2 linked regions of the Homo sapiens genome follow. The protein of the gene in region 1 purifies or fractionates together with the protein of each later gene. This does not show direct contact. Each region holds a gene or a part of one and is shown in the gene's direction. Other genes may lie near its edges.

Region 1 (3,750 bases):
CTCATAAACCTTATCTCAAGGCACTACCAATCTCATTTATTAATCACGGGAGTGTACATATCCTTCCTCAAACATTCTCCAACTCCATACGCTTCCCTTTGTAGATAACGCTCTTCTCCTCTTTCCCCGACTACTGAAAGAACATCCATTCTTTCAAGATCCAGTCCAAATGACACCTTCTCGGGTGTCTCTCCGTTTCCTATGTAGTTAGCCCGCCACGCGATTGCGTCAGAATATACTTCTCTCATAATACATATGCAACTGAACCATAATTATGCACCTAGGTGCTATGCCCTCTAGATTACGTGAAATGTCATTCTTAAATCTTCAGCACTTAGCCTGTTGCCTGGCACGTAACAGGTCACTAAATGCTCTCTCTATACACATGCTCACACAAGAATATGCATATGTATATATATGTATAAAATGCCTGGTTAAGATAGATTCATGCGCCGATGGCTGGTCAGAGGAACACATGGGTGTGCTCTGAAGGAAGCGATGGCCCTATGCGGACAGGGTAGTTGTCCTAGAGTCCCCAGGCGCACCTCAGTGCTTAGGCGCAGCGCTGAGGGGATGGCCTCTGCCACAGAGACAGTCGGATTTCTCCATTTTGGGACGCAGCTCGGCAGGGCACCGGGAGGGGGCGGCGTTGTCACGCAGCTGGATGCTCCACGGGTGACACCCCCGCACCCTACCCCTCACCCCCGAGCCGCGCAGCTTGAGTGACTAGGCCGGGGCTCCCCCAGTTAGGAGGTGCGGGCTGTTTTTCCTCCCAGTCTGGGCGGGCAGGGCTGAGCAGGGTTTGGGGAGTATTCTGTGACCCTGGCATTCTCCCCTCTGCCCCACCTCAGCCCCCGGCAGCGTCTAGGCGCTGGGAAAGCTGCTCCGGGTTAGTTGATGGAGGCAGCGAGCTGCCGAAGAGACGGCCACAGCTTTCTAGCAAAGAGTGGTGGTGGCGCGAGTGAGCGTGCGTAGAATTAGCTCTGCCGAAGTCACCGAAGCTGGAGGAGAGAATTCATTTTATTCTTGAAACTCCTACTTTTACGTCTCGTGGAAAACCAAATCGTATTCCACTGACACTATGATGCACTTAAAATGGCCAAACTTTAGGGGGCCGCGAGGAACGCGCTTCGCCGCCTCCAATTTTGTCAGAGAACTCGCAGCAAAGGCACCGGACACCTAGCGGCCCTTTCCCTGGACTCCGGGGCAGCACGCACTCCCCGGGCGCGCTCTCTGCGCCCACTCGGCCCGCCCAGTCCTCGGCCATTGGCTGCTCGCCCGCGTCTGCTCCGTGACGCGCCCTGACCCCCGCGAAGTACTGGCCCCTTGGAGCCACTCGTGCGCAGGAGCCGCGCACGCCCGAGGCCCGTGGTGCCGCCCCCGCGCCTTCTCGGGCTCGCCCAGAGCTCCCCGGCGCGCTTCCCGAGGTTTCGAGAATCGAAACCCAGTTATCAACAAGCCCTTCCCACTCACGCGCCGTGACTGATTTGCGTGCAAGAGTGGACTCATGAGTCCACACTTGGATCGGGTTTATCAATGGAGTAAATGGTCTACCTAAAAACCGAGGTTTAAAAGAGCGGTCGTGAGGAACCTCCGGAGCCCAACCGTGATGATCTAAAGACGGGCTGAGTCCGCGAGAATTTTGGGAAGTTTCTGCAGTTGCAGGATTTTAGTCGTGATCTGGTTTTGATGACCACTTATGATTCCTGGGGCATTTAAAGTGTCTCCTCCTGGGGAAAATGAAAAGAGATTTGTGGGAGGGGGCGTACATAAATTAAATGTATGTATAAATACACGCATCTACGGGCGCACACAGTATCCGCACATACAGCCCAGGACCTCACGCTCACCGGCAGTCGTCCCGCACTAACTGCTGGGCTAGTCAGCTGCGTGCCCTGCGGGCGGGGGAGGGCAGAGGGGGCGGCGCCCTATGCAGATGAGGAGGGTGTGGCGAACGTGCCGCTCTGGGCCCCGGAAGCGCAGAGAAGCCCGGTATAAAAAAAGTACTGAAGACATTTTCCCCGCACAACTGCTAAAGCTCCAGAGACACGAGCGTGTGTGGCAGCAAGAGCCGCCAGTTCGGGACCACCGCAGCTGGGGTGGCAGCGGCGCAGGAGGGGTCGCGGGGAGGGAGTGGTGAGCGCAGGCGGCAGGGGTCTGGGAAAGACGAAGTCGCTATTTGCTGTCTGAGCGCGCTCGCAGCTCCTGGAAGTGTTGCCGCCTCTCGGTTTCGCTCTCGCTCGCTGCGCTCCTAGAAGGGGCGGCCGCCTCCAGGTGACACAGACGGGACTCTCGCTTGCGCTTTCCAGATGCATCAGAGATACTTTTGGTGCGGGGCTGCTCTGCGGGGCGCGGTGCGCGGCTGGGGACTGTAAGGGCCGGGGGAGGGAGTCTCCGAGGAGGCCCGGGGTCAGGGAACTATCGGGGGAGGGGGCGCTCTTTTCCTGGCGGGCCTCTGCTCTCCGCCGCCGCGCGTGCTCTCCGCCGCCGCGCGTCCTCACCGCGCTCCTTTCCCTTTCTTTTTAGGACTGACCAGGGCCAAGTGGCGCTCGGCGGGCACTACATGGCGGAGGGTGAAGGGTACTTCGCCATGTCTGAGGACGAGCTGGCCTGCAGCCCCTACATCCCCCTAGGCGGCGACTTCGGCGGCGGCGACTTCGGCGGCGGCGACTTCGGCGGCGGCGACTTCGGCGGTGGCGGCAGCTTCGGTGGGCATTGCTTGGACTATTGCGAAAGCCCTACGGCGCACTGCAATGTGCTGAACTGGGAGCAAGTGCAGCGGCTGGACGGCATCCTGAGCGAGACCATTCCGATTCACGGGCGCGGCAACTTCCCCACGCTCGAGCTGCAGCCGAGCCTGATCGTGAAGGTGGTGCGGCGGCGCCTGGCCGAGAAGCGCATTGGCGTCCGCGACGTGCGCCTCAACGGCTCGGCAGCCAGCCATGTCCTGCACCAGGACAGCGGCCTGGGCTACAAGGACCTGGACCTCATCTTCTGCGCCGACCTGCGCGGGGAAGGGGAGTTTCAGACTGTGAAGGACGTCGTGCTGGACTGCCTGTTGGACTTCTTACCCGAGGGGGTGAACAAAGAGAAGATCACACCACTCACGCTCAAGGTAACACCACCCGAGATGCACTTGGGTCCTGACCCAGTCTGGGCCGGGTGTGACGGGGAGCGGGCAGAGGGGCATCGGTTAAATGCCATGAATCTGTGGCCATCACGAGTTTGGGCGCGCGTTATTTCTTTGATTTTTGATTTTTTAAACCAGTAAACTGACGTGCGTGGACGGTGTTGAGTGTTTCAGTTTACTTGATGCTTTGGCGCTACAACTCTTCTCCCAGGTCCTCCTCTGCCCTCTCTTCTCTTCTTTCTCCTTATGTTTTAACTCTTGGCTTTCCCTGTTGGAGTCTTGTCCAGAGTAGATTCTGATACTTGGCAGAATGAAATGATGTAAATAATTTTTGAGTCATTATATTTGAGTCTAGCCTTTGGGAAAATAACAGCCTGAAGCAGAAGTGAGTCAATGAGTTTTTTATTGTACTGGAAAAGGTGAATAGATTTCACAGCGGCATTCAGCTGACTACGTGTTAAAGGTCTATCTGGTGGTTCTTCGTGCTGGTTCATATGTTAAGGGTATAGTGGCACCCCCTCCCCACCCTCCACTTTAGTTCAAGACGGGTTTTATATGATTAGTTAAAATTGTCTGAGGAGGCAGGCTCCTGGAATGTCATAATTTAGTTTATATTTGAT
Region 2 (3,750 bases), on another chromosome or scaffold:
AATACAAAAATTAGCCGGGAGTGGTGGCGTACGCCTGTAGTCTCAGCTCCTTGGGAGGCTGAGGCAGGAGAATAGCTTGAACTTGGGAAGTGGAGGTTGCAGTGAGCCAAGATTGTGCCACTGCACTCCAGCCTGGGCGACAGAGGGAAACTCTGCGTCATAAATAAATAAATAAATAAATAAAGTATGGTACACTTATAAAGCCTTCCTTTTAAAAGTCAAATTCCAAGTTAGGATTTTCCTAAGGAAATAGATTCCTTTTTTAAAAGACTTCAATATTTAAACATTACGATTGTCTATCTACAGGGTTGTAGATTTAAGTATTTTTCTGATACATTTTCATTATTTGTATTTCTACAGATTTTTTAGCAGTGAATTACTGCTAAATAGTAAAATTGGGATAGAACAAATAGATAAATTTTTCTTGTAGCCTTTACATTTCCAGTTATTTCACCATAGCATGTGCCCTTTCAATGTTAATATTCAAGCTTTGTAATTGATTTTACTTAAACTGATTAATTATCTCCTTTCTTCCCATCAAAGAAAATTATACTTCAGAAAACTTCCTATTATGTTGTGGGAATGAAGATGAATAATTTCCCAGATGTTATTTATGATTAAAAGATATGTTTACTTAGAGCTCCCAAATCCACAAGATTCACCTGGGCCAACAGAGTGTTGTTTTAGACTAGCATGGATTTAGAGGATAGGCCAGGGATTTTAATCTTTGTGAGCCCTATCTAAATTTCAATGTAGGATTCTTTTTTTTGGTGGGAGGCGGGGGGCAGGGTGAGGCAGGGTTTTGCTCTGTCTCCCAGGCTGGTGTGCAGTGGCACCCTCATGGCTCACTGCAGCCTCCACGTCCTGGGCTCAAGGCCATCCTCCCACCTCAGCCTCCTGGAATTTTTTTTTTTTTTAAAGAATAATTATCAAAGTCAGAGATACCTGTAGGTTTAAATGTTTAAATGTAATAGTTTCTCAAATTACTGTATACTAGGTGTAGAGTAGTGCTTTTGGAAATCAGTGATTTATTAGCCACACAGATTTTATTATCCCATATATATACGGTTTTGTAAAGATAAACATTGTTAATAAAATAAACTTATTTCAATACATTGCTTGTTTCTACTCATATTTCTTTCCTTTTGGACAGACACTCCTACAACTTTCTAACCCTTCTAAATTAAAAGATAGTAATTGATAAAAAAGTAATTTTAAGGTACTTCTCAAGGGAGTTATTTATTATAATGTATAAAATGTGTAAATTATGATTAGGCAGCCAGTGACAATTTTTTAGTGGAGATTGAATCTCATCTTTTTGTAAGGAGTTTATGAAGTCAGTGTCCTTTGAATATCATTAGAGTCAGTATGTACTGAAATGGATAATTTTGCGTGTCGATTACTCTTTAGTGCATCTTGAATACATCTGCATTCTAGATTACCAGGTTCTTCATAATATGTTGCCAAGTTACAGTGTATTTATTATATGAAGATTAGTAACTTCTGACTTTTGCCTCTTTTTTTAGCCATTGGGGAAAAGTTAGTGAAATATTTGTATTTTGTTTCTTTAGTCTTGAAATTTCAGTGAAAGCTGAAAAATGTATGATTTTAGTATTGAAAAATGACGGTCAATTGTGACAAACGTAAGATATACTGATAATTCCTTAAGGCAGGACACCAAAGGCATATAAGTAATCATAACAACCATAGACACTATGATAGCTCTACTGTGGGTTTCATTGCTTCCTAAAATAGGATGAATCAAGTTATAAGTGCTTAGAAGGTTTAGAAGCTTCTGGTAGCATGGAGCTTATGTTACAAGTATGCTTTAGGTCAGTGTTTTTAAAATGTTTTAAAAATGATCCATGATAAAAGTACATTTATGTGGCAACCTGTGATATACACAACGAAAATAAAGGATTCTCTAGGTGTATATATAAACCTTACTAGATGGGATGCATTCTGTTTTTTTTCATATTGTTACAACTGTTGGTGTTGAACTGGTAGAGTACGCACTAATGAGTCTCAGCTTGAGGTTTGGAAAATTGTTCTAGATGGTGTGTAGTTCTTGTAATTTAATGTTGCTTCAGGTTTAAGGTGGGCAGGCTTCCCCAAGTACTTGAAGGAGATTAAAAAAATTTTTTTTTAAACACTGCTGATGGCTCCACAGGGAAAATGTAAATAGTGAAACTTCATGTACATCTTGGACAAAATAACTAGGGTCGAACACTTTTAAATAGATATCTATTGTGGGATTGCTGACTTGTATGGTAAGTATGTTTAACTTTATAAAAAACTTCCAGACTGTCTTCCAAAGTAATTCTACCATACTGCATTCCCACCAGCAGTATATGAGAGTTCCAATTGCTCCACATTCTCATCAGCATTTGGTGTAGTGAGTCTTCCTAATTGTAGCCTTCATGGTAGGCGTGTAGAAATATATCATTGTTTTAATTTGCATTTCTCTTTTTTTGTTTTTGAGACGGAGTTTCGCTCTTGTCGCCCAGGCTGGAGTGCAATGGCATGATCTTGGCTTACCGCAACCTCTGCCTGCTGGGTTCAAGAGATTCTCCTGCCTCAGCCTGCCAAGTAGCTGGGATATGGGCATGCGCCACCATGCCCAGCTAATGTTGTATTTTTAGTAGACATGGGGTTTTGCCATGTTGGTCAGGCTGGTCTCGAACTCCTGACCTCAGGTGATTGACCTGCTTCGGCCTCCCAAAGTGCTGGGATTACAAGCATGAGCCGCTGCGCCTGGCCTTTAATTTGCATTTCTCTAGTGGTTAATGATGTTGAGTATCTTTTGTGGCTTTTGTTTTTGTCATCCATATAGTCTGGTTAAATGTTCAGGTTTACCTTTTTAATATTGTAAGAATTCTATAATTCTTTATATAACAGTCCTTAATCAGATATGTACTTTACAAATATTTTCTGTCAGTTTATGTCTTTTTCTTAACAGGTTCTTTTATAGTTCATACTTTTTATGTCCTATCTAAGAATCTTTACCTAATCCAAGGTAACAAAGATTTTTACTTTTTTTTTCCTGGAGATTTTATCTTTTTACCTCTTACATTTAGGTCTGTGAACAATTTCGAGTTAAGTTTTACATATGTTGTAAGAGTCAAGTTTCATTTCTTTGCATATTAATGTGCAATTGATCTAACAGTGTGTGGAAAGACTACTTTTTTCCCTTTGTTGAAAATCAATTGACCATAAATGTTTAAGTCAATTTCCTAGCCACATTCCATTGATCTAGCTTCATGTCTTTATACCGAGGATTGAAATCAGCTAGTGTGATACTTTAAACTTGGTCTTTTTTTTGAGACAGAGTCTTGCTCTGTCACCCAGGCTGGAGTGCAGTGGCTCGATCTTGGCTCACTACAAGCTCCGCCTCCTGGGTTCACACCATTCTCCTGCCTCAGCCTCCCGAGTAGCTGGGACTACAGGCACCCGCCACCACGCCCGGCTAATTTTTTTGTATTTTTTTAGTAGAGATGGGGTTTCACCGCGTTAGCCAGGATGGTCTCGATCTCCTGACCTTGTGATCTGCCCGCCTTGGCCTACCAAAGTGCTGGGATTACAGGCGTGAGCCACCGCGCCTGGCCGAAATTTGGTCTTTTTTAAAAAAATTTATAGTTATCCTGGCTATTCTGAACCCTTTCTATTTCCATAAAAATTTTAGAACTAGCTTGTCAATTTCTACAAAAAGACTTGGGATTTTGTGTTGAATCTATATATTATTTCAGGGAG

Evidence for each region. Proteins that work in one complex are often made in the same cells at the same time.
Region 2: the proteins of TENT5A (region 1) and DCAF6 purify together in Homo sapiens (affinity purification with mass spectrometry; 3 studies listed by BioGRID and IntAct, with this or other methods). This does not show direct contact.

What each region holds. Positions count from the first base shown.
Region 1 is NC_000006.12:81,750,955-81,754,704, reverse strand, and holds the start of TENT5A (terminal nucleotidyltransferase 5A), read left to right. Parts: upstream 1-2,023; 5' UTR 2,024-2,274; intron 2,275-2,526; 5' UTR 2,527-2,563; coding exon 2,564-3,115; intron 3,116-3,750.
Region 2 is NC_000001.11:167,939,604-167,943,353, forward strand, and holds part of DCAF6 (DDB1- and CUL4-associated factor 6), read left to right. Parts: intron 1-3,750. UniProt on the Homo sapiens protein: Ligand-dependent coactivator of nuclear receptors. Enhance transcriptional activity of the nuclear receptors NR3C1 and AR. May function as a substrate receptor for CUL4-DDB1 E3 ubiquitin-protein ligase complex.